4 separate regions of the Homo sapiens genome follow, and all the other regions are linked to region 2. Evidence: fine-mapped expression QTL. A gene starts in region 2. Each other region holds a variant in brackets. All regions are shown on one strand. Distances are between the middles of the regions.

Region 1 (8,109 bases), 94 kb after region 2:
CTTGGAAAATTAGATAGCCATATGCAGAAGAATGAAACTGGACCCCTATCTCTCAACAGTAACACAAATTAACTCAAAATAGATTAAAGACCTAACCATAAAAGGTGAAACAATAAAAATCCTAGAATAATACCTAGAAAAAACTCTACTAGACATTGGCCTAAGCAAAGAATTTTTGAGCAAGTCCTCAAAAGCAAATACAACAAAAACAAAAACAGACAAATGGGACTTTATTAAACTAAAACTCTTCTGCCCAGCAAAAGAAATAATCAACAGAATAAAGACACAATCTGCAGGATGGGTCAAAATATTTGCAAACTATCCATGTGACAAGGGCCTAATATCCAGAATATATAAGGAACTCAAACAACTGAACAACAACTAAAACAATGAATGATATCATTAATAAGTGGCCAAAGGATATGAATAGATATTTTTCAAAAGAAGACACACAAGTATAAGAAATAATACTCAGCATCAATAATCATCAGGGAAATGCAAATTAAAATCACAATGTTATATCATCTTGGCCCAGTCAGAATAGCTATTACTACGCACTTTGGGAGGCTGAGGCAGGTGGATCACCTGATGTCAGGAGTTTCAGACCAGCCTGCCCAACATGGCAAAACCCCATCTCTACCAAAAAATACAAAAATTAGCCAAGCATGGTAGTGCATGCCTGTAGTCCCAGCTGCTCGGGAGGCTGAGGCAGAAAAATTGCTTGACCCGGGAGGCAGAAGTTACAGTGAGACAAGATCGCCCCACTGCACTCCAGCCTGGGAGACAAAGCGAGACTCTGTCTCAAAAAAATAAAAATAAAAAAATAATAACAGATGTTGGCAAGAATGCAGGAATAAGGGAGCTCATATACTGTTGGCGGGAATGTAAATTACTACAACCTCTTTGGAAAACACTATGGAGAATTCTCAAAGAACTGAAGACAGAACTACTATTTGATCCAGCAATCCCGCTATTGGGTATCTACCCAAAGGAAAAGAAATCTATATATCAAGAAGATACCTGCACTCATATGTTTATTGCTGTTCTATTCACAATAACCAAGGTATGGACTAAACCTAAGTGTCTATCAACAGATGACTGGAGAAATAAAATGTGGCATATATACAAAATGGAACACCATTCAGCCATAAAAAAATAATGAAATCACATTTTCTGTAGCAACATGGATGACACTGAAGGCTTTAGTGAAACGAGTCAGACACAGAAAGACAAATACCACATATTCTCACTTATAAGTGGGAGCTATTAATAAATAATGTATACCAATGGACATCAGGTATGGAATGATACACAATGGAGACTCAGAAGGGTGAGGGGGTTGGAGGGAGTGGATGATGATAAATCACTTAATGATTATGATGTACTTTATTAGGGTGATACCTTAAAACTCCTGACTTCACCACTATGAAATCTATGCATGTAACAAAATTGTACTTGTACTGAATAAATTTATACAAATAAAAAGAGATGCCTGATAATAAGACACTAATTGACCATAAACATATACACTAGCCCATTAACATGAGCTGATGGGTTTGTCAGCTGGTCAGAATCTTTGCATAAATCAAGTTGAAAGGTTAGTAAATGAAGTCTGGGAAACGTGTTAATATAACTTTCAGAATGAGCACAAAGTATGATATAGTCATGAATTATTTACATCATTATACAAAGTTGCCTATTGGAGAGGAAGCTTTCTATGGTCGAATCACAAGGTGCCCCATCCTGTGAATGTCAGTCACTCTTTGAGCAACTCTGGTGCTTGTTTAATGGACTCATGTACAAAACAGCCATGGTGATGGGCTAGAGGTTATGCATGAGGTCAACAAAATGGATTTTCTCTTCCCACAGCTTCTCTGCCTGCTGAAACAACTCATTACCCAAATGTCAATGATAGTGATTATATATTAAGTCCCAGATTGGCACGCATTCTCCACTGATTGATTATATTGGACCTCTTCCACCAGAGAGAGAAGAGCATTTTTTTCCACTGGATTAGACAATTATCCTATATGTGACTATGCCTTCCTTGGCTGCAGCGCTTCTGCCAGCATCGTCAAGCACAGACATATGACAACATTTGTATTGTCATTATGCTATTCTGTGCAAAATGGTTTCTGATCAAGGAACTAATTTTGCCACAAAAAAAAGTACAGTGAAGAGCTCTTACTTAGGGAATTGACCAATATTACTATATATATATATATATTTCTTTATATAGAAGCAGCTGTTCATCTGGATCATTGGAATATCCTACTAAAAACATGTTGCTAGTTGAAAAGCACCATCTGCAAGGCTGCAAAAACCCCATAAAATGCAGTCCTTTATTTGGATCGATGACTTATATGTGGTGATTTTTAGTTTCATGACCAAAATGCATAATTTCAAGACTAGAGAGATAAAAGTGGGAGTGGTTTCTTTTACTATCATATTCAACAATCTATTTATTATATACTCTTGTTTCTCACTCCCACGAGTCTGAGGTCTGTCAGTCTAAAAGGCTTCCCAAGAAAGGAGTGACTTCACATAAGTAGGCAACATCTGTCCTGGTGACATGGAAGTTGAGACTGCCACCTGGCCAAGTTAGGCTCCCAGTGCCACTGAATCAACTGGTCAATAAAAAGGGATTGATTCCAGCTATCAAGTGGAAATAAACACCATCAAGGTAGAGAGAATTATGCCTAAAATCCAAGGAGTTCTCTGAGAAACATGTAATTACTTCAAGTTCAGTAGCAGATATTAATTAAAGACCACAGGGATGCAATGAAGGCAGGGTCGCTAAAGACTCAGATGCTTTAGGAATTCAGATTTGAGTCTTTTTACCAGATAAAAAAATAATCCCAACATAGAGAGGAATGGCTGAGGGAAAAGGGAATCTGGAGCAGGGAGTATTAAGTGTAACTGTTATTTATAGCTTTATAACTAGTTACTGAAAAGAGGACTGTAGCAGCTATGCCTATTCTCCCTCTTGTTGAGGAGGAATTACAAGCATCCTCCACATAACCTTCTCTTGGGGGATCAAGTAAAAATAAAAATGTGTAGCTGAAACACTGGCAATCAGAGCTGACCAGAAATTTTGCTATTCTAAGAAACATGCTCCTTATAATATAGACAGATGCCCCCTAGTAGAGTACAAATGTGTCTTTTCTGTCATAAACTGCCTCCACATCATCATACTGCAGTCCATTGACACTAAGCCTCTGAAGAAGACAGCACTATAAATCTGAGGAAGATCAGTTTAAATGATGCTGATCATAAGGAAAAATCAGGACGAATCATTGTCTCATTGTCTTAAAGAGAAATTAGTATCCTTTGCTCTTATTCTGAATGTGGACATACTTTCCCTAAGTTCCATTTCTGTTAGTAGCTACAACCAAGCTGACAAAAGAGAAGGCAAACTTATTTTCTTTATCTGCCTTTCCCAGGATCTATCTGCCTCTAAACTAATTATGAGACTCAAGATGTTTATCTTAATGAACTTTCCTAAAACTGGCCAGCAGCAAACTTCCCTTCTTGACACAAAAGAGGAGTCAATAAAATAGGAAAATAAGATTTTTTTAAATTACGGAATAGAACCTGGGACTGCCACTGCCCAGTTGGAAGAGAAGTATTAGACTAATCGCCCAAATATGACTTAATCAATCCA[G/T]ATTTTTAACATTTCCTTGCTCCCTCCAATTTCTCAGAAACACCACCTTGGTAACCAGTGCTGCTGTGAGGTGAGAAAAGAACAGGACAGAACTGAAGTAACAACCAGCTCTCACAGTGAGTGATTCACATCAGCGTAAAGTCAAGCCAAGGCAAGTCACTGCAGCAATAAACCAGTAGCATGAAAATCAAAGTATCAGTGAAACTCCTAAGTGAAGGAAATCTCCTCTCAAAGATAACCTTACGAAATTCAATTTGGTACTTTCTACAGTTTTATTGAGGTATAATTGACAAATAAAACCTGTGTATATTTAAGGTGTACAACTTGACATTCTGGTATACATATATACTATGGAATAATCATCACAATCAAGCTAACTAACATGTAAATCACCTCAATCAATCCCCTCACATAGTTATCTTTTTCTTTTGGGTGAATAAAAACACATAAGAACTACCCTCTCAGCAAATTTCAAGTATACAATACAGCATTGCTAACTATAGTTACATTGTTCGAAATCTTACTTATCTTGCATCACTGAAAATGTGTGCCCTTTGACAAACATCAACCCATTTGCTCCTCTTTCCAGCCCCTGCCAAACACCATTCTACCCTCTGCCTCTGAGACAGCAAGATAGAGCTTAAGTAGCAACCAGCTCACTCACAGTGGGTGAGTCACATCAGCAGCATCAAGACAAGACAAGGTAAGTCACTGCAGCCATAAACAGCAGCATGAACACCAAAGTATCAGTCAAACTCCTAAGTGAAGGAAATCCCCTCTCAAAGATCACCTTACAAAATTCAGTTTGATATATCAAGCTCGAATATTTGAAATTACACATATAAATGTGATTATGCAGTATTTGTCTTTCTCTGACTGGCTTATTTCACTTAGCATAATGTCCTCCAGTTTCATCCATGTTGCCACAAATGGCAGGATTTTTTTCTTTTTTAAGGCTGAATAATACTTCATTATATATATACACCATATTTGCTTTTTCCATTCATTCATTGATGGACATTTAGATTTTTTTCCATATCTTGGCCACTGTGAATACTGCTGCAGTGAACATGGGGGTGCAAATATCTCTTCAACATACCAGTATTATTGCCTTTGGATAGATATGTAGTCAGAAGTGCAATTGCTGGATCATAAGGCAACTGTATTGTTAATTTCTTGAGGAACCTCCATACTGTTCCATAATGGCTGTACCAAGGTACATTCCCACCAACAGTATACAAGCATTTTCTTTACATCCTCTCCAACATTTGTTATTTCTTTTTTATGATAGCCATTAGAACATGTGTAAGATGATATGTTGTTGTGGCTTTGATTTGCATTTCCCTGATGATTAGTGGTATTGAGAACTTTTTCATACGCCTCTTAGCCAATTGCATGTCTTCTTTTGAAAAATATAAATTCAGGCTCTTTACTCGTTTTTTAATTGAGTGTTTTGGCATTCTGCTCTTGAGTTGAATGAGTTCCTTATATATTTTGAATACGAATCCCTTATTAGAAATGTGACTTGCAAATATTTTCTTCCATTCCATACATTGACTTTTCATTTGATTATTTCCTTTGCTGCGCAGAAGCTTCTTAATTTGATGTAGCCTTACTTATCTTTGCTTTCGTTGCTTTTGTGTTTGATGTCATTCTAAAAAATCATTGCCCAGACCAATGTCAAAAGGCTTTTTCCTATAGTATCTTCTAGCGGTATTATGGTTTCGGTTCTTACATTTAAGCCTTTAATCCATTTTTAGTTCATCTTTGTACATGATGAGAGATAAAGGTCCAATTTACTTATGCTACATGCAGGAATAGTTTTTCCAACATCATTTTTTGAAGAGTCTCTCCATTTCACATTGTTTTTATTGGCATCATTATCAAACATCAGTTGATAGTAAATGTGTAAATTTACTTCTGGGGTCTCTATTCTGTTCCACTGGTCTATATGTTCTGTTTTTATGGTGGTACCATACTGTTTTAATTATTGTATCTTTATATTTTGAAATCAGGGAGTGTGATGTCAGCTTTTATCTTGCTAAATATTGCTTTGGCTACTCAGATCTTCTTTAATTTTTTCACATCAATGCTTTATACTTTTTAAGGTATAAATATTTTACCTCCAAGTCACATTTATTCCTAAGTATTTTATTCCTTTTGATGTTATTTCAAATGGGCTTTTATTTCATAATTTTTTATGTGTCAATTTTTGTCAGTGTATAGAAGCGCAAGTGTGTTTTGTATGTAAAATCTGAATCCTGCAACTTTACTAAATTTATTAATTCTAAAATTTTTTTACTAGTCATTAGAGTTTTTACATATATGATTATGTCACCTACAAACAGATAATTTTACTTCATTCTTTCCAATTTAGGTGTCTTTCATTTCTTTTTCTTATCTAATAGCTCTGGCTGGGACCTTTATTAATATGTTGAAAAGAAGTATGTCATGTGGATATATTGTGTAATGCTAAGGTTCAGAATATGAATTATCTTGTTACCCAGGTAGTGAGCAAAGTATTCAACAATTTTTCAACCTTGCCTTCCTCCCTCCCTCTCCACTTCAGTAGTTCCCAGTGTCTTTTGTTGCCATCCTTATGTCCATGAGTGTCCAATGTTTAGCTCCCCCTTATAAGTGAGAACATGTCATATTTGGTTTTCTGTTCCTACATTAATTTGCTTAGAACACTGGCCTCCAGCTGCATCTATGTTGTTGCAAAGGACATGATTTCATTCTTTTTTATGGTTCTGTAGTATTCCATGGTGTATATGTACCACATTACCTTTATCTGGTCTACCACTGATGGGCACCTAGGTTGATTCCATGTCTTTGCTATTGTGAATAGTGCTGAGATAAATGTGTGCACACATGTCTTTATTATAGAATGATTTATATTCCTTTGGGTATATATCCAGTAATAGGATTCCTGGGTTGAATGGTAGCTCCATTTGAAGTTCTTTGACAAATCTCCAAACTGCTTGCCACAGTGGCTGAATTAATTTACATTCCCATCAGTAGTGTATAATCATTCCCTTTTCTTTGCAACCTCATCAGCATCTGTTTTTTTTTACTTTTTTTTCTAACACTACTCCAACATGATGTAGTTTACTTTAGCCTTCTGTACTTGTATGTCTGTAACTTCCCTCTTTCTGAGAGAAACTGGCTTCCAGCACCTGCTATCCATTTACTTGTTTTGGGTTTTTGTGTTTGAGATGGAGTCTTGCTCTGTCACCCAGGCTGGAGTACAGTGGTGTGATCTTGGCTCACTGCAACCTCCGCCTCCCATGTTCTAGTGATTCTCCTGCCTCAGTCTCCTGAGTAGCTGGGACTACAGGTGCCCAACACCATGCCCAGTTATTTTTTGTATTTTTAGTAGAGAGGGGTTTCATTATGTTGACCAGGCTGGTCTCAAACTCCTGACCTCAAGTGACCCTCCCAGCTCGGCCTCCCAGTGTTGGGATTACAGGCATGAGCCACCACGCCCAGCCCACTTTTTTACTTTTTAATAATCACCATTCTGACTGGTGGGAGATGGTATCTCATTGTGGTTTTGATTTTCATTTCTCTAATGATTAGTGATGTTGAGCATTTTTTCATATGTTTGCTGGCTGTGTGTATATCTTCTTTTAATAAGTATCTGTCCATCTCCTTTGCCCATTTTTTAGTGGGGTTGTTTAGTTTCTGCTTATTAAGTTTCTTATAGATTCTGGATATTAGACCTTTATTGAATACATGGCTTGCAAACATTTTCTCCCATTCTGTAGTTTCTCTGTTTACTCTGTTGATAGTTTCTTTTGCTGTGCAGAAGTTATTTAGTTGAATTAGGTCTCACTTGTATATTTTTGTTTTTGTTGCACTTGCTTTTGGAGACTTTGTCAAAATAGTCTGATCTTCGACAGTGTTGACAAAAGCAATGGGAAAAGGATTCCCTATTCATTAAATGGTGCTGGGATAACCAGATAGTCATATGCAGAAGATTGAAAATTGACACTTCCCTTTCACCATATGTGAAAATCAACTCAAGGTGGATTAAAGACTTAAATATAAGACCTAAAACTGTAAAAACCCTAGAAGAAAACTTATGAAGTACCATTTGGCAAAGATTTCATGACAAATTCTTCAAAAGCAGTTGAAACAAAACTAAAAATAGGCAAGCAATGTTTTTCTTCAGTAAGCCATTTTTCTAACTGAAATGTATAAAATGTGTTTGTGGTGAGTGGGTGAAGAGCTTTAAGGAGCATGTGCTCTTCTTAAACTACTGTGTTATAGGACATTGCCATGGTAATGAGTGGCCAAAGGAGTTCAGATGAAGGGTTTTGGAATGAGGGTCAAACAATCTTGAAACTGGGGTGTTGGATTGCTTTTCCTTTGGTCACTAAAGCCTCGTATGATTATATAAGAACCTATACTGAATAGAAACACAATAATTGCTGACTCCTATG
Region 2 (8,089 bases):
GTTGGGCCAGAGCTCGGCTCTCTGTGGGTTGACCAGACAATCAGCAGGGCCCCTGGGCTTCTCCTGAAGTGGTCAGAGGAACCTGCTCTGTCCTGCTTCTTTCTCCTCCTTTCCTTCATTTCCAGGGCTGTGATTTGGGGGGCACTAGCTGAAAAGAACCATTTTGAAGGGTTTTTCCTTTTTCCTGATGAGAAGGTGGCTGTAGCACCAGTGACCCCGCCACTGTTCCTGAGCTGCAAGGCCCAGCTCCCCGCCATCCCTGGGGATTCTGTCATGCTGGACAGACAAGAGCTCCCTGCTCCTACTTCTTCCTGTCCCAGATACCTAAACCTTCCAGAGAGCCCTGGAGGCCTCCTGTGTTTCTGCTACTCTTTAATGAGTCTGTGACCACTAGAGAGTGGGGAAGGTGGTGAGAAGGAGAAGGGTGGGGAGAGGCGTGAAGATGGCTGGTGGTGTGAGTGCGCATGAATGTGTGAGTCTGAGTGTGCACGTGTAAGTATGTAAAGGAGCATGAGTGTGAGACTGCATGTGAGTGTATGTGATTGTGACAGTGTGTATGAGAGTGAGAGTGTGAGTGCGTGAGAGAAGGTGTGAGTGTGAGAATAGGAGTATGATTGTGTGCATGAGTTTGCAAGCATGTATGAGTGCGGGCATGTATGAACATGTGTGGGTGCCTTTGTATGTGAGTGTGAGTGTTGTGTGTCAGTGTGTGAGAGTGTGCATGTGGGAGTGGGTATGCACACATGCCGTGTGTGAGTTTTGCATGCCTGGGTGTGTATACTGCTTCAGCTACCACTGGGGCTGATGACTCTACTGGTAATTTTTGAGGCAGGGCTTTCCTCCCTCCATCCCATTCCAGGAGGAGGAAGTTAATTTTGAGGACCAATAGAAATGTGAGGTGGCTTGATGGGAGAAATTGTGGCTCACGAAGGTTTGGGGATCGATTCCCTGAGGTTTTTGGGGATTTTACCTCTGTGATTCCCCTAACTTAGAAATGTGGTGTGGCTTGATGGGAGAAACTGTGGCTCACAAAGTTTTGGGGATCGATTCCCTGAGATTGCTGGGGATTTTACCTCTGTGATTCCCTTAACTTAACTGTTCTTCAATATTAAGCTTATGTGTCACCTTCCCCCCAAAATCTTTCCTAACCCTAGCTGACTCCACTGTCTGGTGGTCAGGGGCTTCCAAGCTCTGGTGAGTGCCCCCTGCTTCCCTCTGGCTCAGCAGTGCGCATGATGTTTATGAATCTATCTGCCCCACTCAGCTCTGAGCTTCTCTAGGACAGGGACATTCCAGATTCATCACTGCAAGTCAAGTGCCAGATGTAGGGCCACACCTAGGAGGGGCCAGGGGATGTTTGTCCAAGGTGCGTGCTAGCAGGACCACTCAGGTTGCGGGGCGGGTTTGGGCGGGAGAGAAGGGGCCCAGAGTCAGGAAACACAACGGGGAGGTCTTTGCCTTGGTCCAGGTGTGAGAAGATGGGACAAGTGCTTGGATAGTGGGGAGGAAGAAAGTTGGGAGCCTCTGCACTAGGGGTGGTTGAGAAGGGTCAACTCACTGGCCACCAGCTCATGGACCTCCCGGCCAGGAAATAGCCGCCAATGGTCCCTCGACTTGCACGGATGGACGACTGGAAAGGAAATAGATGAGATGAGGATTTCTCAAGACTCTCTGAACCTCTGCCCTGCCCCCTCCCCGCAGATTTCCTTCCCCTCGGTGCAGGCACTGTGGGGACACAGAGGGTGAAAACTGAGGCAGAAGAGAGCTGCCTGAGGCTGGTTCCACAGTTTCTAAGCGATGTATCTTGGCAGAGTCACTTTCTCTGTGAGCCTCGCCATTCATCTCCCAGGGCCAGTGCGAAGAGCAAAGGAGGTAACGGATGTCACGTGTGTGAAGCCATTGATTGTGCACTCTTGTCCCCTTATCCTTCCCTCCCCAAAGTGCGCTTTCAGAGTATGATTTGTTATCACCTCCTTAGATGTGTAGTGCTCACCCTTTCTCTGAGCTGATCCCCTCCCTGCTCCCAGCTGAGCTCCCACACTGGAGGCGGGAGGACAGAGAGGGCTGCAGTTTGACTGTGAGACTTTGAGCCCTGAGTAGAGTTATGGGTACTGTTTTGGAGTTTCCCTTGCCCTGGGTTGAAATCAGATCACGCCACTGAGCCCCATCCAGGACCTCCCTGTCTTACACCAGTAGGTGGTCAGTTAGCAGCCTGTTGGAATATTCTCTGGAGATACAGGGTGAGGGCAGGGCAGTGGGTAGGGAAGGATGAACTTGAAGCAGCTATTCAGATGCAAAAGCCAACAGTTCTCTGACTTTCCCCTAAGGGAAAATAATCAGTCACGAGGGAGTGATAAATATGTGTGGGGCCTTGTGCTTGTTAAGCTTTTGCTTGTATTTTCCTTGTCAGCTCTGATCCTCTTGGAGGCCATACGAGCAAAACAGATCCATTTTACAGATGTGAAAATGGAGGCCCAACATTGGAAGCAATTTGTCCAAAGTCACAGAGGAGTTGGTGCTTTTCTCGGCTGGCCACTTCCAGGAGCCAGTGACCATCTGTTAGCCCAATTCTTCCTCACACCAGCACTAGAAGGCAGGGACTGTTCACCCCCCTTTATAGATGAGGAAACTGAGGCTCAGAGAGGGTCTCTGACCTGGCCACAGCCTAGGAAGTGACCATCTGGGACTTGAATCACAGCAGAGTCTAAAGGTGCTCACACTTCTGTGGAATGCGTGGTGATAATAGCAGCCATTTATTGCCTGCTGATCGGGCACCAGGCACCGTGCCAGGTGCTGCAGTATGTCCTGTTGCTGAATGATCACAGCATAGTCCTTATTCTCATTGTTCACCTGAGAAAGCTGATAGGCCTCATATGTTCCCAGGGACATGAGGCTCTCATTGTTGCAGCTGGGACCTGAACTCAGGTTTCCCTGACCCCAAAGCCTGGCCCCTGCCTCTAGCACTGAGGCTCCTGGGAACAATGGAGAACAGAGGAACCTTGGAATAAGCCTGGCACACTTCCCTGAGAGCACATGAGCCCCTTCTCATTTAGAAATCACCTTAGCCAAGATGCTAACGAATGCAGGACTGAGGTAGGGCCAGGGGTCAAGAGTTCTCAGAGTTGGGGGCCTTGGGGTGGGAAGAAGGAAGGAGTGAGGCTCAGGGCAACCAGGGATGGTTGGGGCCAAAGGCAGCAGGTGCTCAGAGAGGAGTCAGGAGTCGGGGGCCTGGTCTGCCTCTGACTCTCTGTGTGACCTCAGACCAGCCACACCCCTCTCTGCCCTTCTAAAAATGAGGAGATCAGGAGCCTGATTCCTGAAGGCCCTTCCTTCTCAGCCACATGGTTCTATGATCTGCTTCTTTCTGCCTAGCCCTGCCCCAGCTCCACAGCCCCACCCAAGCTGAGAGACCACTACTACCTCCCCTGCTAGCCCCAGCCTCAGGGCCCACTTACCCAGATCCCCACAGCAATGACGAAGACAAAGTAGATGACCACCACGCTGATGTCGTAGGCGTGCAGACCAACTCTGGAGTCCAGTGCTATGTGTGGAGCTGTCTCAGTCCTGACCCCGTCCCCTGAAGCTCCAGGCCCCATTGCTGCCAGCTCCTTGCTCATCTGTTAGTGTTGGTCAACAGCAGGCTGGACTTTGAGGCGCTCCTGGCTTCATTCCTTTCCTTTAATGATTAAACTGCCCCAAGCACCATTAGTTGGTGAGAAAACTCTGAGCCCTGCTGGCACATACAGTCCTGCCTCCTTTTCTCCCAACTGCCACCACCAACCCCTGCAGGACTCCTTCCTTCCTCTTCCTTGCTGCCACTACGTGCACACACATACATGCATGTGTACACACAGGCACACACATACACGCAATCTCCCTAACCCCAGATGAGCAGGAGGAGAAAGGAGGGGGAGGAGGAAGAGGAGAAAAGGAGCAGAATATTGGAACCCCAGAGGTGGGAAGGACTTCAGAAATCAAAGTGTTCAAACTCCTGTGTGGTGGGAAAACCAAGGCCCAGGGAAGTAAAGGTGGAGCCGGGACTGGAGTCCAATTTTCTTAAGAGTTCAATACAATTGTCTTTTACCTAGTGAGAGGAAGACAAGGGGAAGGAGGTGAGGAGTCTACTGTGACCCTAGCAAAGTGGCCACCACCTCATGTACTCCCATTCCAACCTACCTAGATGTTGCTTTCTCTTTTTATATAGTGTAGGAAACTGAGGCTGGGGAAGACATCATCATTTATTCCAAGGAACTAGGCAGGGCCATCTCTGAAAAGGCAGAGCCAGAATTCACATCTTCTGATGCCTGACCCATACTTCCTATTCTGTACTGTGACAGATGAAATGGTTGTGGTCAGGAGGCCTTCCCTGAAAAAGATACAGTGCTCCCTGGGTCCAGGGAAGACCATCTCTGGGACTCAGGCAGCCTAGATTTCAGTCCCAGCTCCACCTCTCACTGAACTACAGATGCCCTTGGGCAGGTTGCTAAATGTCTCTGGGCCCGGGTGTCCTCATCAGTGTGACCTGTGCCCTGCCTGCCTCACACCACCAATGAGGCTAAGATGTGCTCCTGAGAACCTCTGCAAACCCTGAGCTACTGAATGTTCTTGGGGTTAACACAAAGAAACCAACATCGACCACCATCTAGCCAAGGGGCCCAGATGCCACGCACTTAGATATCTGCTCACATGGTCCTTCCAAAGTAGCTGCATTTGGAATATTTCAGTCTTACAAATATTACTCTGCATGCATCTGCTGTAGGGCCCAGACTGGAGCAGCAGGAAAACAGATCTCACTGGCCCTGTCCCACACCCCATCCCCAGCTCTCACTGGCCCTGTCCCACACCCTATCCCCAGCATCTTATAAGTATCCCAAGGCTGGGTGTGAGGACCAGATCCTCTTTTTTCCCCTTTTGGTGGAAAGAAAAGTGAGAGGCAGGGTCCTAGGCCTTCTCTCCCCAGTTCTCCTATCCCAGAACATCAGGCACTGGCCAGGCTGAGCCCCGAGGAGAGGGATATTGATCTGGGAGAGAGGTCAGCATAGTCCCCAGCTGGACAGGGCTCTGTGGGATCTAGCACCTGTTAGGATTAGATACCAGAGGAAGAGTCCTTCATATACACGTTTAAAGGCAAGTTTATCAGACGAACAGGGATGCAGGAGGGGCAGCATTAGAAACATCAGGAAAATGTGATGGACCAGGTGCCCAGTGGTCCCTGGGGGTGAGCTGGATACAGGGACAGTGGGGAATGAGGCTGGCAGATCTCTGGGTGTTAATCAGGGAGCAGGGAAGGAGTGGTCTGAGCTTAGGCCTCTGAGCACACCATAGTGAGGGCTCTGGATCCGGATGACTCTTCCAGAGATGGGAAAAGGAATGTCGCAGGGAGAAGACAGCTGAGTCTTGTACTTCTTTCTATGCTCCCCACAAGGAGCCCCCTCACCCAGCCCTTGGGGTTTGCTATAGTTTGGATGCTTGTGTTGCTTCCAAAATTCATGTTGAAACTGAATCCCCAATGCAACAGTACTAAGAGGTAGGGCCTTTAGGAGTGATTAGCCCGTGAGGGCTTCTCCCTCATGGGTGGGATCAGTACCTTATAAAAGGGCTAAGGGAACTAGCCAGGCCCTTTTGCCTTTTTACCTTCTGCCATGTGAGGACACAGCCACAAGGTGCCGTCTTGGAGGCATAGACTGGGCCCTCACCAGACACCAAACCTGCTGGGGCTTTGATCTTGGACTTCCAGCCTCCAGAATTGTGAGAAATAAATTCCTGTACTTTATAAATTACCTGGTCTTAGGTGTTTTGCTGTAGCAGTAGGGATGGACTAGGACAGTGTTCTGCTGCCTGCATGCTCTGTCTTCCCATCTACCTCACAGATACATGAGGCTGACCCCCAAACCCTGCACACTTACCTAATCCAAAACTAGCAGGTTTGGGTTTATAGTAGCCTCTCCTCGAATGCATCTAAGACTTATCTGTAAGCTAACCAGGCACATTAGCAGCCCAGAGACCAACAGAGCATGAGGAAGGGAGCAAAAAAGGCTTTGAAACAGCCAGAATAGACATTCTAAAACTCATGCCCAAAACCTAAATCTTTGACTTATCAGTGAGCCTTGTGACCCCACTCAGAGACTGTTTATTTTTGTTTTAGCCAGAGTCTTGTTATTCATATCCCAACTCACAACAAATTAGAAGAGAGGGGGCAAAGCTACACAGGGACAGCAAGGAGAATGGCAGCTGATGGGTTGATGGTGCATGAGAGGTCATTAAACCTGGAAAGACCAGGAAAGACAATGTAAAAGATGACTAAATCGGGGCAAACAGACCTATAAAACTGGGTAGATCAACTCTCAACAAAGGGCATTCTTGAGTAGCAGCCAAGATTCACACACATACGGATGACCCAGAGTCATCAAGGAAAGGTGACTGTGGTCATTATGAGTTTTCTATTTAGAAGGCATGGAGTATGAAACCCAGGCAGGAAGAGTTTCATGCAAAATGGTCAAACATTTTAGGCAGGTGTTGGCATTCAAAGCTGAGGCCTCAATTATCCAGAATATTCTCTCAGAGAGCTTCCGAGAGTGAAGGATGTCCTCATGCTGTCAGTCCTACATGAAGTGAGGCCTGTCCTATCCCTGACCCTGTTCAGGGAGCACACATGTCTTTAGTTGTTCATGCCTTGTGGGGAATACAGACAGTCAAAAGACAGGTGCTTTTGACACAAAATAGGTCACTTTTGTCCACCCCTTTCTTCCTTTTAGCTGGATAGCCCAGAGGAAGGATCAATGAAGTCCTTTGTTGGAGAGACTGAGAAAGCTTTATGGGAAGGGGAATGGTTTCAGCCATGCATAAAAAAGTATAGAAATATAACAGGCCAATAAATGGAAGTTGCCACTGAGGCACAAAGACATACTACACATAAGAAGAACAAAGTTGGAGGTTTCATGCATCCTGATTTCAAAACTCACTACAAAGCTACAGTAGTGAAAGCAGTGTGGTAGTGGCATAAAGACAATCATATAAACCAATGGAATAGAACAGAGAGCCCAGAAATAAAGTCTCACAGTTACAGTCAAATGATTCTTGACAAGAGTGTGAAGACCACTCAGTGGAAAAATGACAGCATTTTCAACAAATGATGCTGAGAAAATGGAATATTCCTATGCCAAAGAAAGAAGTTGGACCCTTACATTGCACCATATATGAAAATTAACTCAAGATGGATTGAAGACTTAAATGCAAGAGCTAAGAAAATAAAGCTCTTAGAAGAAAACATAGGGTAAAATCTTCATGTTGTTGGACTTGGAGATAATTTCTTGGTGATGATGCCAAAATCACAGGCAATAAAGGAAAAAATAAATAAACTGAACTTCGTCAAAATTAAAAACTTCTGAGCATCAAAGGACACTATCAACAGAGTGAAAAGGCAACCGATGGAATGGGAGAAAATATTTACAAATCATACATCTGATAAGGGATTAGTACCTATAATATATGAAGAATTCCAGTAAATCAACACAAATGAAACTAACAATCCTACTCAAAAATAAGCAAAGGAGTTGAATAGACAATTCTCCAAAGAAGTTATACAGGTGGCCAAAATGCATATGAAAAGATGTTCAACACCACTAATCATTTATCATTGTGATACAATATCACTTTGTACCCATTTGGATGACTATTATCAATAAAACAGAAAATAACAAGTGTTGGTGAGGATGTGGAGACAGTGGAAACCTTGTGCATCACGGGTAGAAATATAGGATGGTGCAGCCTGCATGGAAAACAGTATGGTAGTTCCTCAAAAGATTAAAAATAGAGTTACTATGACCTAGCAATTTCACTTTTGGGCATATATCCAAAAGAATTGAAAACAGAGATTCAAAGAAATATTTGTACACCCATGTTCATAACAGCATTAATTTTAATGGCCAAAAGATGCAAACAACCCAAATGTCCATCAACAAATGAAGGGATAAACAAAATGTAGTCAAAACATTTAATGGAATATCATTCAGCCTTATAAGGAATTCAGGGCTGACACATACTACAACAGAGATGAACCTTGACATTATGCTGAATGAAAGAGAATTTT
Region 3 (8,109 bases), 31 kb before region 2:
CCCAAGCAGTAATTATAAGGAAGGTGTACAGCCCTAACCTGTTTATCAAGCTCCAGATTCACAGATACAAAAACTATCTGGCTATGCCAGTGGGATATCCCATGGGTACCTCCAAGTCGGTGTGCTCAAATCTGAACTCATAATTTCTTCTTTCAAGACCAAACCTGCTTTCCACATCTTAATACATTAGAGTACCTACTCTTTAGATCTAAAGCCTGGGAATTATTCTTAATTCTCTCCATCCCCCCAGAGTCAGTAAGTCCTGCAGATTTAACTTCACGAATGCCTTTTAGCAGCCTTCTCCCCTCCTCCAGTCCTCTCCCCTCCTTCACGGCTACTGTCCTAATTCAGGCCCTCATTCAAAGGAGGTTATCTTTTTGTAATTGTACTAACTTTTAAAAGTTAAAATAGTATGTTGTTGCAAATAGTGTAGTACAGCTTATGATATTCTCTTTTCTTACCCCATACCTGCAGGTACCCAGGGATGACCTTCTGTGAATGGTCTGCCTAGGTATTCTGGTGGATTCCTCCACAACTCCTTTTGATATTATGTAGATATAATACCTTTTATCTTGACTTCAACAAGCCAAGAACAATCTCTACTATGAAAGATGAAAATTTAATGTTGACTACCTTTCCTCCCTTCTTTTCCCAGTGTTTGATATTCATGTTATTATTAGTTATTTTATTGATTACATATGTAATTTTCAGTAACAGACTTAAACCTCTATTTCTTGCTCCACCTACTTTCAACAATCTGTTGACTACCTACTTTGTAAGAAGACAGATATTAACACTTCTGTCTTTGCCCTCTCAATTCTATCTTTTGTCAACTACATGTTTATGTTGTCAAAGTTGTAACATTTACATTCTTTTCTTTAGCCAAATTAATCTTCCATGCTCTTCCTTCCATAATTTTTTATTCTACAATTAACATTTTGATGTGTTTGCTTTAGTACAGTATTAATTTATCAATCCTTTTTTAAACAGTGGTAAAATGTACATAACATAATATTTATAATTTTAACCATTGTAAAATATACAAATTTTAACCATTTATAATTTTAACCAAATGTACACATTTGGTTACAGCATTCATAATGTACATAATGTACAGCATTCATAATGCTGTATACCTATCACCACTATCTATACCCCAAATTTTTCATCATCCTCAACATAAACTCTGTACCCACTAAACAATTTCTCCCCCTTGCCTACTCTTCCCCTGCCCTCTATTCAGCTTTTTCTCTCTCTGAATTTGCCTATTCTGGGGACCTCATGTAAGTAGAATCATTCAATATTTGCCTTTCTCTGTCTGGTTTATTTCAGTAAATGTAATGTTTTCAAGGTCCATTCACGTTATAGTATATATCAAAAATTCATTCCTTTTTAAAAAAACTTTTATTTGAGGTTCAGGGATACATGTGCAGCTTTGTTACACAGGTAAACTGGTGTCACGAATGTTTATTATACAGATTGTTTTATCATGCAGGTACTAAGTTTAGTACCCAATTGTTATTTTTTCTGATCCTCTCCCTCCTCCCACTTTCCACTCTCAAGTAGGCCCCAGTGTGTGTTGTTCCCCTCTTTGTGTCCACGAGATATCATTTAGCTGTCCTTTTTACATGGCTGAATAGTATTCTATGTGTATGTATAAGATTTTGTTTATCCCTTTATCTACTGATGGATTTTTCCTTTCTTTTTTTCAGTGATACTGCAACAACCTCAAAAATTGCCATCCCTTAGCAGCCTCTGGCTCTATCATTTATTCTCTTACTGTTGCTGGAATGATCTTTCTAAAGATAAGATGCTCTTTGTATATATTAGTTGCCCTTACCCTTCCTGACTCTGTCCCATTCTTGGCTATACCGTGGCACCCAGTGTCCCTAGGCTCACCTCTACCTCTTCTCCAATGTCATCTGTGTTACACTCTCACAGACCCTGTGCTTCAGCCACAAAAGGTACCTCACTCTACCTTAGAGATGCCATGGCCTTTTACATACTTGTCTTGCTTTGTGCAGTTTCTTCTGTCTCTCATATAATCATTTTGTCTGTCTACACAGAAATCTCTACACTCCAAGTAGAGTTAAATGTCTAAATCTAAGTTAAACATTATTTCCCATGAAGCCTTCCCCATTTCCACGAGGTAATTTGTTGCTCCTTTCTCTGTTTTTCTGAAGTATTTTGTTCCCACCTAGAATTTCAGTGCTTAATTGTTCTGCAATAATTTGCTGACTTGCCTGCCTTTTTTATTCAACTGACCTCCGCGTAGATTGCAGCTGTTTTCCATATTTATGTCATGAACCTGGAAACTGTAACATTCATGAAGAATGCTGCATGAGTGAGTAGTAGTACAATGAGGGTAGGGTTGAATGTGGAGTCAGAAATCTGGGCTTAAAGACCAGTTCAGCCACATTACCTCACCTCTCTGAGTTTGTTTCTTCATTCATCAGTCCTAGACTGGTGTTGAGAACTAAATGAGATGGTTAATGTGGGAGCACTCTTTATAAAATAATTGCGAGGATTTTAAAAATTATCAGTCTTACTAGTCTTCATGTACTTCTCATCCCAGATAAATTTACTATTCTATAGGAAGTTCCCAGTTTGTGAATCATTCCTTTAAGAAGAAATCATAAATAGTGGAAATATAATTTTGGAATACCTGATGTTTGCTTTGTTTGCTTAAGTGGTTAGAAATTTCAGGGATGCAGAATTTAGCTAGCAAAAGGAAGAACTTTCTAATTGGCAGTGTGGTCCAGTAATGAATGCTCTCAGGAGGTCATCATTGCTCCATCTCTGGACCACCCTGCCAATTAGCAAGTTCTAATAGAGGGCTGGCTAAGTTTACCTGTCAGGGAGACTGTTCAGATAAATTCTGACCCAGAATGAAGAGGGAGGAGAGCTGCACTAGCTGACTCTGAGGTTCCTTCTCATTCTGAATGTTTATAATCCTAAAATTTACATACAAGGCATACTGAGAGAGAGACCAATGCTGCTTTTGTAGTCTATTCAGGAGATAAGGTATAAAGGTTGGGTTTTATTTTTTCCTCTTTAAGAGAAAGTTGTAGATTTTGTATAAGACCACAGTAAAAAGTCTGACATTTCTACTTTGTGAGTCTGGGCTGAAGCTGAAATTTGATTTTGAAATATGAAAGTAAACTGTAACTACCTTAATTTAAGCCTGTAGGATTTACATTTATATATAACCTTTAAATTTCTCCCAAATTTTCACCCTGGAGAAAAAAAGAAATTACAGTAATCTTACTTAAGGCTAGAAATCTAGACAGACACTCATTCTAGGTTAATGGATAACTGACACTGCTTTGCCTGGGCTTCTAGCAGTTTCCATCCCCTCTGACTGATGTGAACTCTCACACCCAAGGACATGGTTACGAGTCTCTCATGTTAAATTGAGTGCTTTTGTAGTCCAAACTCAATAACAAAAACACTTTAGAAAACATTTTCTTCATGATATTTTTAAGAGTGCTATTTTTTTTTAAAACACCATCCTTTCACAGTTCAAAGCTGCTTCTTAATGTTATTATTGCTCATGGTAAACCCATTTCAATTCTCTGAAAGCTACTCTGCAATGTTTTTCTATTTGTGCTGTTGCCTCTCAAGCTGACATATGACTTTCCCTGTATACCCTCCACTACCACCAACCAATCCATCCACTTCCTGCCCCAAGGAGACAAACTGTGGAAACAAATTAGAAGCACACAATGTCAACATGAGAAGCGTCCATAGATTTCATCTAATCTAATTCAAGCCTTTGCGCCTCTCCTCTTTTAAGGAAGAAGCAACTGAGGGATGGCTAGGGAGGGTCATAAAGCAAGTAATGACAAAATTAAGCTAGGATACAAAT[C/A]TTTTACCTGCTTATCTAGTACTTTTAACCACTGCCCCATGCACCGACTGGAGGTGAGTTGGGGTAGGGGCTCTGAAAGGTTTCAGAGAGGTGGTTACAGCTCTCACTGTGGTGACTGACAACTGACCCAATGGACAGGCAGTTTCCTTTTAAGTGACTTGGTAGAAGGCCTGACATCATCTTGCAATTGAATGAGGGGCTAAGAACCCTGCTGAAATATATACATATAGAGAGAGCCGGGTGACATCTCATATGTACATATTGGCAGGTAGTGATGGAGAGATCAACCTGAGAACAAGGTCCTGCTGGAATGAGAAAGCATGGCAAAGATGAGAGGTTTGGAAAGGGGCCACAGGAGCATTACAGTCAATGAGACTGAAGGTCCACATTAGAGACTGGAACAACTGAGGCACAAATGGTGAATGCTACCATCTGAGATTCCTCAGATACATTGAGGACATTCTGAATGTGAAGGGGGTTGTTGGAACTTGGAGGCAAAAGAGGCTGCTTTGCTTTTTAATTTTTACAGGCTGTCCTGAAGCTCACATTTGGGTGTTGACTGGCCTTTCTGAAACGGAGATGAAACTTGTCTACCTACCTCTAAGAGTTGTAGGATTTAATGAGACCTCACCCGTGGCGGGACTTTGTAACTCCAAAGTCTGTACAGATTGTACAGATATTGTCTATTATTCTTTCTCTTGATTGTGGCTAAGAACTAAGGAATCCAGAGCCAAAATATGATGGAGTAAATTGAACATGCATTCATTCACTCATTCATTGAACATTTATGAAGAGCTTACTAAATGTCCTAAAACAATGCAACCCCTAGATGAATACCACACCTACTTTCAAAGAGCACCAGTCTGTGGCAAAGAAGAGATGAAAATAATTATAACACTTGCATGAAACTTGCTATAGTAGAAACACAGGGGCCTGTGGAGGCTCAGAGGAAGGACACAAAACCAACTTGGGTGAGTGGAGGAAGTAGCATGAAAAGTTAGTAGGAAATGATTCCTGAGGTGAGTAGGAGATAGGCAATGGTGGTAGAAGGTCAAGGGTAAGTGTTCCAGGCAAAGGGAGCGACATGAACAATGGCATGGGATAGGGGAAGTAGGGCTGAATGAGAGGACCTTGGAGACCCCTTCAAATGGTAAGTGTGACAGACACATTAACGAAAATGTAAATGTGTGTGTGATGTGTGTGCCTTCAGTAGACCTGCCCAGGGCTTGGTGGTAATATAGGCCTCAACATGCCTTTTTCTCCAGCCCCTCCTATGTCATTCTTGGCTTGCCCACTACCCCTGAAACACTTTTCATCTTGAAGGGCCTGGATAATTGTTGCTGAACCCTTGCATGGCCTTAAGCAAGTCCCATCCCTTCTAGAAGTCTCCAGTGTCTCTTTCTGTGAAATATGGGGGTCTGATTAGCTGGTCACTGAGGTCCCTTCTAGGACTGACCCTGACTTGTGAGCTTCCTACACTGCAGTGATTCACTGTTTGCCTCTGACTCTCCCCCACACTCTGGGAATGGAGCTTAGGTCTCCTGACTTTCAGCTTAGGGTTCTTTTCTTTCCACCACATTGGCTGTTTTACTGTATCATAAGAGTTAAAGGAGAAACATCCTGTTCCTCAGAGAACTGAGTCTAGCTGAGAGCTAAGAAGGCACCAAAGCTTGAACACCATGGTACCCCTAGTGCCTGGAACAGGGTGCGGCCCATGACATTATTTGTAGTGTTTAGTGCCAAAATGAAAGAAATCTTGATTGTAAAACCTCAAAACTGGAGATAACCTAATAGATCTCTTTGTATGGGCTGTTCCCTCTGCCTGAAAACCTTCCCTTCAGCACCCACTTCCTGTGGCCAGCAGCAGGGCTAAGACTTGATACTAGACAGGAGAGCTTCTCTCCCTGTGGGTAAGACTTTATGGTCAAAATCCTCCAGACTTTGCCCTTTTCCCTCTCCACAAAGCCCAACTTCAAAGCCTGATTTCCTGTTAAAAAACTGTCTTTGGTTTCTCGGAAGCAGCACATGAAACCAGGTGCCAGCGGTTTATTTCAGAGGAGATCCCAGGAAACACCTCCAAGGAAATGGGGAAATGAGACAGGGAAGGGAAGGGAGCTATGCAGGGTGTGTTAATGGACATATTAACACGGTGGGTAGCTGCGCCTCATTGTCCCTCTGAAAGATATTTTAGAGCAAGGCTCCAAGTTGTCCCACTTCAGGGCAAGGGGCTGACAGTGCTTATCCTCAAACTCTTTTTTGTCGCTGGTTCAGGGCTGCTCCCAGGTGTGTTAACTCCAAGCACTTCTAGCTTGTTGTATGCAGGGGACCGAACATTTTTCTACAGTCAGAGAAAGCCCTCAGCAGAGAGGTGAAGGGGCTTTCAGCAGGAAGTCACAGTAAACAGCACTGCTGAGACCTAGGGGATGTGGGCAAGGAGACTGACAGCCTCTGCCCCAGTGGTGCAATGCCCATTATCTTCAGTCCCTGGTCAGTAATCTTCACAGCTCTGCCTTAGAGGCAAGAGGCTAAATACAGACAGGATTTATAAGGGGAAATTAAATATGCAGGGTTGACATTTGCAAATGAATAAATAGTATCCCTATTTTATGGGAATTCATTGTGCACTTTTGTACCTTAACCCTTTAGCACATGCTGCCTCACTACCTTGTATGACTTTTTCTAGAAAACTCCAATTCATTCTTCCTTCAAACTCTAGCTCCATTATGCACTTTTATGTTATGCCCTTTCCTGATTGCCCTGATAGAACTAATTCCTCCCTGCTCTTTTCTCTGACAGCATTTTCTGCTAGATCTAAAATAACATTGCTATGTAGTGTCATGCCTCCTTATGTGTTCATCTTGCCTGCTACTAATAGCAGTAATAATGTTGTGGGACGTTTTCCTTAGTTTAGCTAAGAGCCAGGTCCTTATCGCATGGCCATGAAAAATTAGGCTTGCAGATGATTTGAAGGGTGAGAATAATGGGATTTATTGGGCAAAAAGGAAAAAACGGGGAACAGGAACTCACTTCAAGGCCAGAGTTCCTGCTAGTGTAGGATTCCCACCTCACAGATTGAATTCCAGGTTCCACCCAAGGAGAGGAGAGGCCAGGCTCCTCCCTGCTGCAAATGGCACGAACGTCTGTGGCTCCATCCCAGTGTGCACTCCTCTCAGTGCATAGGCCAGTTGGAGTTTTGCCAGGGAGCCCTTCCCACCTGGCTGTCTCAGTAATAGCTAACATTTATTAAGTACTTTAGTTATGTGTGAGGCACTATTTTAAATACTTTATTTGAATTAACTAATTTAATCTTCTCATCAACCCAATGAAGTAGCTGCTATTACTGTCTCCATTTTGTGGATGAGAAAAGATAGATAGAGAAATTAAACAACTTTTCCAATATCTTGTCATTAGAAAATGACAGCATGAGGAATTGGTTCCAGAAGATCAGTCTTTCAAGCCCCTGCAGTCTTCTTAACCACTGCACATAACAGCCTGTCTTTGGCTGTAGTACAGAAGGGGGCACAAGGACAAAACCCTGGGATATATTTCTAGCAATTTTCATAGGATCTCATGCCAAGCTGGAAAACACCATCTATGGAGAGTCTTAAATAGAACAATACTTGCATTTTAGAAAAATCATTCTTGCTATAGTGCATAGGATGAATTGCAAGAAGAGAGACTGGGAAGAGAGATAAGAGTCAAAGGGCTGTTGAAATGATCCAGGTAAGAGATGAAGTCCCAAGTTTAGCATGGACCTTCCTTCCTGAGCTATCACCTGCTTACCTCCCAGTCACTGCACCACCCATTCCCCAACATGCAGGCCTAACACTCATGGATGTGCAGGTGGTGCCCTGCACAAATACACCTGGACAATAGGGGCATGTGGGAGCTGAAGTGAGCGTGGGCTCTGGCTGCCACCTGTCACCCTATAGTGAGGATCTGTATCTGCCAAGAAGAAAGGCATCTTTTGCTCACTTTCACAATGAAGCATAAGGACTAGCAGTGGTCCTGTCCACGTGTATCTTCCACTCCCGACATTTAAAACTATTTTTGTTCCTAGTTATGTCATAATTTTTCCCACCTCTGTGTTTTTTAATCTTTGGTTTCCTCTGCTAGGGGTGCCCTTTCACTCACTCATTTCATTCATTTATTCTTTCACTTATTCATATAACACAGAATTTTGTACCCACCATGTGCCAGGTACCTATCTAGGTGAAGGGGATTCAGCAGGGAGCTCACAA
Region 4 (8,109 bases), 24 kb after region 2:
AATATAAATAACCACACACATGGTTTCTGAATTGTACAACAGAGAATTCTAGATAATGTCAGTTTTTCTAGTAATAAATGCTCTCCATCCTAGCCCCTTTTTGAGGTTGGGCTTCTAAAGATTAGTTAGGTTGTCTCCCAAGTTTCTCACAGTGGAGAAGGGGAGGAAGTGCAGGAGGAAGCAAAAATGAATTTATAAACACTATAATAAAAGTGAGCCTAATTACAGCAAGAGATCAAAATAAATAATACCGATAGTTGCTTTTAGTTTTGAGTGCTAGCCAGGTGTAAAACACTTTAAAATGTGATTTAATCCTCAAAGAATTCCTATGCAATTTTGTAGCTGAAGAAACCAAGGCTCAGAGTGGCCAAATGGTTTGTTATTTGTGGCAGAGAATTTAGATGCCCATCTAGGTGAGCCTCGGACTCTAAAACCTTCCTACAATGCTGATGTAAGGCTTTAAAGAAGAATACATCTCATCGAGTGAGAATACTATTGAAGGCTTTCTAAAGACGGTTGGGTTTGAGCTAGGCAGGAAGAATAAATGGGGTTTTGTTAAAAAAGAAGAGAAGATAGGGTCCAAGCAGAGGGACAGTATCAGTCAATGAGTAAGAAATGCTGGGAGCATGTTCAACACATTATCATGGTATTTAACCAAAATTTGAGGAGGGACATGTCTCTCCTTTGTAATGGGCTTGGCTGGGTCCAAGAAGAGGCGACTGGTGCCTGACTAGAGGGAATCTGTATTTGTAGGAAAATAGAGAGAGCCTGGTCTGCAGAAGAGTATCACTGAAACCACTAGTCTGGGAGAAAGATTATGGTGCCCCCATAGGAACTGGAGAGCTGCAGAGCCAAGAAAGGAGGGGCAGGAGGGGCAGAAGGGAATGGGGCTCCCTTTGAGATGGGTAAATAAATGGAGTGTAAACATACACCCATGTATGCTTGAATGTCAAGGGAGACTCACAGGTTATTAAAGGATCCACTGCGACTACTTGGAGGAAGAAACAGGGAGTGATGGAAGCCAGTGGGTCTCGTTGAGACTAAGTCATGTGAGACATGCCTTACTGCTTTACCTGTGTTTTTAAGATTAATTGATTAACAGATCTAAGAGAATCTATTGACCAAACAATTAAGTAGTTCTTAGGCATCAATTATGTAATGGGCCCAGCAGTCAAAGCTTTTCATGTTGGTGTTTCAAAAGGACATTTTCCAAAAATCTCTTGAGGGAAATATGGAGAAATGTATGTTTGATGACTCTGCAGTAGCTGATGCTACCATGGCAATCTGGAGGCAGGCTTCCAGGGACTTAACCACGTTCTTTCTTGACAAACGTGTTGAGTGATTTGAATAAAGAATTTGCCAAAGGGCTATCAGATTTGGTAAGGACAACTAATTCATTATCCAGAGAATCAAAAGCAAAGCAGTTATTATCTGCTATAATTGATTTGACTCTATCAGGATAATATTTAATTACAAAAACTATAAAGTTTAGCATTTAGCCTCAGGAAAACCAATTTTAAAAGAGAAGTAGTGTCTGCTTTGGTAATGTCAGCCTGCTAGCCATTTTTTTTTTTTTTTAGCTTGAGCTATCAAGATGCTGTGGTGAATAAACCACTGCCTCACAGGTCTTTCATTCCTGTCAAAAGATCTTTAGAGACAGATGGAATTCCTTTTACACTCACTGCTTGAGTGAGGACTGCAAACACTACGGTGACTTTTAGTGTGCAGAGTGGAGACCTGGCTGTGAATAAACAGTGACATCCTGGCTTTTCTGCTGGAAAAAGAGAATTGTTTAAGTTAAAAAATGTAAAACTGAGGGGTGGGGTTGCTGTGTGTTATTTCTTTTCCCTAAATGCAGATCTCTGCTTAGAAAGCCAGACTCTATTTATCAGGCTTTAGCCCTGAGGAAATAAGAAGAAAGGAGAAAAGGGAATGTCTCTAAAGTAGCACTGGATGGGGGCAAATGTGGGCAGAAGAAAAGATTGAGCTGCTTGAGAGTGGGATTGAGTTTGCCTTACTTTGCTCTGCCTGTTGCAGGCACGTGTGGGGCAGGCTAGATGGAGCGTTTGTTAACTGACTACTTAGGTGATGGCAGAGTCACTGACCTGGCCTTTCCTCCCTTCTCCAATCTTTTCTCACACTCAAGCCAAAGAGATAGTTTCAAATGAGTATTTGTGTATGTCCTTCCCAAATCTTACACTCTGCTTAAAACCTTTCAGTGATTTTCCAGAACTCTCAGAATAAAGCTAAAATTCCTGAACATAGTCTACTAGACCCTGCCCAGTCTGCCTTGCAGCCTCATTTTGCCTCAAATCTCCCTCTATTTTGCTATGTTTCACCTGCTATTGTCTTAGATTTCCTGGCAATGTCCTGTACTTCTTCCCACTGCAGGACCTCTGCACATGCTCTTGCTTTTGGCCAGTGAGTTCTCCTGGGCCCACTCCCTTACTCTGAGCTCTCAAAGATCCGTGTTCTTCCCACAAGCTCCAGAGAACAGGGATTGGCCTTTGTTTGCTCGTTGTATTATCCCCAGCACAGTGCCAGACACATAGAAAATCCCTAATTGAAACAACCTTTGCAAAAACTATAACAGTGGGAAAATTATGACAGAGAAAGAGATCTTATCTAATCAACCCCCATCTTACCCTTAACCTTGGTCATTCCTGGGCTTGGGCCAAGCTAACTTTGGGAGAAATTTAGTATATAGTTTAAATAATAATAGCCCTTCCCCAAACTAAACCACCTTTGTAAAACTAAGACCATCAGGTTAGGAGGATGAGAGGAGGCTGAATTCGGCTAAGATGTAGGTATAAATGATGACTAGTCATTATTCTGGAAATCAGCTTCCTCAATTACTCCTGCAGATAACATCACTATTGCAGAACCTAAGACTGGCCTTTTGAGTTGTCTTTTCAGGCTTTTGCATTTATGATGACTGGATGGCCCCACCTGGACCCACGACTCTGGACTTAACTGGTCCTGTGGCCCTCACCCAGAAGCAGACTCAGTGTACTGCAACCGTGTTCCACACCCCTAGGATTGCATCCTCAAATAATCAGCAGAACCTGTTCCCCTGCCTCCCCTGTCCTTGAAAAGCCCAAGCCTCTGAATTTTTGAGAACATGGATTTGAGTAATAAAACTTCAGTCTCCTGTTCAGTTGGCTCTGCGTGAATTAAACTCTGTCTCTATTGGAATTCCCCTGTCTTGATAAACTGGCTGTATCTGGGAAGTAGGTAAGGAGAATCTGTGGGGTGGTTACATAATTATTGAAAGAATGGCTGAATTTTCTTTCTAGATTGCAAGACCTTTGTGCTATCCATCAGATTTTGCTTTTAGGAAATGAGAAGAAAAAATAACTCAGAGCAGTCTGAGTCATGTGAGGTATAGAAGACTTATCAGGCCCAGAGAAACAAGAGTTTAGGACATCAGTCACCCCCACCTCCACCCTGCACCTATATCTGGGGGCAATTTTTTAAAGATATTTTGTTCCTGACTAGTTGCCTCACTCATTATCTTCATGTTTCTGAAATTCGTGATACAAAGAACAATGTATAGCCAATCAATAGCTTATGTTATTTTAAGAACATCTTGATAAACAACATAGAAACTTCCTCCTTTTTTCCTTTAAAACTTGACCTGTGGCCAGGCGCAGTGGCTCACACCTATAATCCCAGTAATTTGGGAGGTCGAGGCAGGTGGATTGCTTGCGCCCAGGTGTTTGAGACCAATCAGGGCAACATGGTGAGACTCTGTCTCTACCAAAAATTTAAAAATTAGCCAGATGTCGTGGTGCTTACCTGTTGTCCCAGCTACTTGGGAGGTTGAGTTGGGAGGATTACTTGAGCCTGGGAGGTCAAGTCTGCAGTGAGCCATGACTGCGCCACTGCACTCCAGCCTGGGTGACAGAGTGAGACCTGGTCTGAAAAAACAAAACAAAAGAAAACAACCAACTTGAGTCTGGGTGCAGTGGCTCATGCCTATAATCCCAGCACTTTGGGAGGCTGAGGTGGGTGGATCACTTGAGGTCAGGAGTTTAAGACCAGCCTGGCCAACATGGTGTAACCCCATCTCTACTAAAAACAAAAATACAAAATTTACCCGGGAGTGGTGGCGGGTGCCTGTAAACCCAGCT[A/G]CTAGGGAGGCTGAGGCAGGAGAATTACTTGAATCTGGGAGATGGAGGTTGCATAGAGCCAAGATTGTGCTATTGCACTCCGGCCTGGGTGACAGAGAGAGACTCCATCTCAAAAAACAAAAGAAAACAAAACAAAAAAATAACTTGTAACTGTTGCCAATCAGAGTGTATATTCAGGGCAACTTGAATCTATGGTCCTGGGTTTCAGTCCTCAAATGTGGCCCCAGTAAACTCTCTACTTATATTAATTTTGCCTCAGTCTTTTTTTTTTTCCTTTTAGGTTAACAAAAAGCATGTAGTATCCATTTTTCATTGCTCTTTCCTTAACTTCTGTGTGGGTTGGGGTAACATCTTTACTTCCTGATGGGAAGGCTTTGATGTTGATAAAAGGCCAATGAGTAGGTAGGGAAGGTTTCTGGGGCATGTGACTGGGGGAGAAAGAAATTTTCCCAGGCTGTCTTAGGAACCACGTGCTTTGCCAATCGCCACGTTTGTTCTGCCCGGCCCAATCTGAGTTGCAGGAATTTAATCTTAATAATTGGATGATAAAGAACACATCCACCCATAGAGCCCTAAAGGAGCTGGGGTTTCATCAGCTTGAGGAGCAGTATTCTATTCAAACCTATGCATATGTGGGAGAGGAAAAAATTTTCTATCCTCTTAGAGTTTCTAGCTAGGCCCAAAAATGAAACCGACATAAAACAGATTAACAGAAGAACAGCATGCAAACTTTATTCCTTTTTTTTTCTTTTTTTTTTTAGATAGACTCTTGCTCCCAAACCCAGGCTGGATGCAGTGGTGTGATCTTGGCTCATAGCAACCTCCACCTCCTGGGTTCAAGCAATTCTCCTGCCTCAGTCTCCTAAGTAGCTGGGATTGCAGGTGCCCACCACTACGCCCAGCTAATTTTTTTTTTTTTTTTTTTGTATTTTTAGTAGAGATGGGATTTTGCCATGTTGGCCAGCCTTGTCTCAAACTCCTGACCTCAGGTGATCTGCCTGCCTCCCAAAGTGCTGGGATTACAGGCATGAGCCACTGCATATATGGGGATCTTTATAAGAGGACAAAGACCTGAAGGAGTGACTGGAACAGAAAGCTTTTATATCATTTAAATAAAGAAATGATACTGTAGGGAAAGCTCACTGAAAAATCACCGACATGAGACAGCTTAATAGGATAAAATGCACACAAATTTAAGAAGTGAACTGCCTTCATGCAACATGCACAGAAAGTGCACATGGAGGGAATTACAGGGTGACTACTCACTTGCAATGGGGTTAAGAAGCTTATGTAACATCCTGACAACAGGTTATGGGAGTGGTGAGAAGAGGAATTCCATTGAGGGGCAATAAAGGATTATGAAGGAGAATGAATGGATTCTGGAACTGAGAGTAACTTGTAAATAGTTCTCTTTGACAGTGAAAGGGCCTGTTCTGGTGTGGTCACATTTGTGGTCTTACAGGAAGGGGAAGTAGGTATGGATAAAGGAAATTCCTCTATCTTTAGACTGTATGGGGCCGGGCGCGGTGGCTCACGCCTGTAATCCCAGCTCTCAGGGAGGCTAAGAGGCGGGAGGATAGCTTGAGCCCAGGAGTTCGAGACCTGCCTGGGCAATATAGCGAGACCCCGTTCTCCAGAAAAAGGAAAAAAAAAAACAAAAAAAAAAAACAATAGACTGTATGGATAAAGGAACTTCACCTTCCTTGGGAGAGACAGCAGAGGGAGAAGGTCAGAGAAACCTTGAGGCTTCTTCTGTTCAGCCTGTCAACGCATTGAATTTGGGGTATCTGTTTCTGAGCCCCAACAATACATTTGTGAAGAAATGACAAGACAAAAGGGTTTGAACTAGGAGCTGTAAGTTGTGGAGAAGTCACTAGGAGATATATGGTGGTGGTGGGGCAGGGAATAAAACTAGTGGAAGATAAGGGTTATTTTAGTATGTTTGTTTGTACAGATCCATTTCGGCATTGATTCCCAGTCTCTGGTGATAAGGGTATTCTTCTCTTCCTGGCACAGGGAGGGAATCTTTCTCATGGAAAATTCTGTGGCTTGTTTTCAGTAGAAAAGGAGCCGTTAGATGACTCTTCCTGCATCTGCTGTTTCTCAAGTGTCATCAGCTGGAAATAATTAATATGTCAAAGCGGCATATTTTGGCGTGGCTTGTCCTTAGCTCTTTCACCTGTCGTATCTCATGTGACTTTAAACCGTGTTAAACCATGGTGCTGTGGAATAGCCTCGTGAAAGCGGAATAGAGCTGTACTGAAAGGTTGCTGTTTTCCTATTATTGATGGGGATAGCCACGGATTCTTCTCTTGGGAGTCAAGCAACCCACACAGACCGTGTGCCCCCAACTGCCTTTGGGCATATGCCATCAGGGAGAATCCCTGGTGGTGCAAGAATTCCAGTGCTGGAATGGGAAGGTTTGCTTAATTCCTGGATTTAGTATTCAGAAGCTGACTTGCTCATAGATACTGCACACACTTCCCAATATCAGAGTTTTGTTCTTTAATAAAAGTAATATTTTGATCTCCTGCTTTACTATATAGTTTTATTTTCTCAATTAATTCAAAACTTAGACTGAAAGAAAAGGGGAGCTATAATTTTTGCCCCTTTGGAGCTCCAACAAAATATACAAATTTAAAAATAAATGATGGGACAGAAATACACTGGAAACCTGTAAATCTATTAAAATTATGTTTTTGAAGACCAACAATAAAACAGGTTCATAATGTATTCTGGAGTGTAAAAAAAGAGAATAGAATTATAGTGTTTGTCAAGCATTCCAAAAATGTGTTCCCTGTATCAATATTATCAGCACTACGTGGGAACTTGTTAGCAAGTTCTTGCACTCCACCTAGAGCTACTGAGTCAGACACTCTGGAGTGTTGCCAGTGGTTTGTCTTTAAAAAAACCCTGCAGGTAATTCTCATGAACGGTAAAGTTTTGGAATTCTTCAATTTTTAGCACACACACAATACTGGATGGAAATATACCAAAATGTTAATACTAATATTATTTGAAAGGTGAGGCTACAGTTGTGTGCATGATTCAGTATAAGTTAATATTAAAATAAATTATTTCATTTCCAGAGGTTTTTGGTGGATTCCTCGGCTTACCTCCCATCAATAAATCCAAAAGAGAACAGTAATTCTTCTTGTCATTTTGTAAGTTATCACCATTTATTTATCAAGCCCAAGCAAGATTACATATATTTGTGGTTTATGAGAGTAGGTCATTTTTCCATTTAAGACTTTTTTTTTTGTTTTGAAATAATTATACATTCACAGGAAATTGCAAAGATACAACTGAAAGCAATTGACTTTGGTATCCTAAACCTTTCTATAACTACTTATCAATTTCACGAGGGTTTTGTTTGTTCGTTTTGAGATTCCTTGGGATTTTCTGTAGAAAGAATCATATCATCTACAAAGGCAGTTTTTTTTTCTTTGACTTCAAGTTTTTTTTTTTTTAACTTCTATTTTAGGTGCCGGTTTGTTATGTAGGTAAACTCGTGTAACAGGGGTTTGTTGTACAGATTATTTCATCACCCAGGTATTAAACCTAGTACACATATAGTTATCTTTTCTGCTCCTCTTCCTCCTCCCCACCCTTCACCCTCGAACAGACCCCAGTGTCTGTTGTTCCCTTCTTTGTGTTCATGAGTTTTCATCATTTAACTTCCACTTATAAGTGAGCACATTCGATATTATTTTTTCTGTTTCTGTGTTAGTTTGCTAAGGATAATAGCCCCAGCTCCCACAACAGCTCATGTTCCCACAAAGCACATGATCTTGTTCTTTTTTATGACTGCATAGCATTCCATGGTATATACGTACCACATTTTCTTCATCCAATCTGTCATTGATGGGCATTTAGGTTGATTCCACGTCTTTGCTGTTGTGAACAGTGCTGCAATGAACATTTGCATGCATGTATCTTTATGGTAGAATGATTCATATTCCTCCATGTATATATC

Which allele goes with the higher level. Alleles are on the strand shown, and positions count from the first base shown. SD is a standard deviation of normalised expression in the study named. Not every link is listed here.
In carriers of allele T in region 1, the expression in sun-exposed skin of the gene that starts at base 3,638 in region 2 tends to be lower than with G alone (small effect, 0.27 SD a copy in GTEx).

Evidence for each region. PIP is the estimated chance that this variant, and not a neighbour inherited with it, causes the effect. A credible set is the group of variants that fine-mapping cannot tell apart.
Region 1: its variant is the best candidate, but not a certain one, in a credible set for the expression of SLC5A9 in sun-exposed skin (GTEx, PIP 0.62).
Region 3: its variant is the best candidate, but not a certain one, in a credible set for the expression of SLC5A9 in whole blood (TOPMed, PIP 0.75).
Region 4: its variant is the best candidate, but not a certain one, in a credible set for the expression of SLC5A9 in sun-exposed skin (GTEx, PIP 0.62).

Annotation. Positions count from the first base shown.
Region 1 is chr1:48,124,166-48,132,274 of GRCh38, reverse strand. The region is part of intron 10 of LINC02794 (long intergenic non-protein coding RNA 2794); the gene reads right to left. It also overlaps the pseudogene SKINT1L. Among named protein-coding and RNA genes, the nearest start is that of LINC02794, 78 kb to the right of the region's middle. The variant G/T (reference allele first, on the strand shown) is at 3,665.
Region 2 is chr1:48,218,265-48,226,353 of GRCh38, reverse strand. It overlaps SLC5A9 (solute carrier family 5 member 9), which reads right to left and starts at 3,638. Exons shown (of 14, transcript NM_001011547.3): 1 at 3,456-3,638; 2 at 1,559-1,630. The coding sequence starts at 3,617.
Region 3 is chr1:48,249,685-48,257,793 of GRCh38, reverse strand. No RefSeq gene overlaps it. Among named protein-coding and RNA genes, the nearest start is that of SLC5A9, 31 kb to the right of the region's middle. The variant C/A (reference allele first, on the strand shown) is at 3,869.
Region 4 is chr1:48,193,887-48,201,995 of GRCh38, reverse strand. No RefSeq gene overlaps it. Among named protein-coding and RNA genes, the nearest start is that of SLC5A9, 25 kb to the left of the region's middle. The variant A/G (reference allele first, on the strand shown) is at 4,134.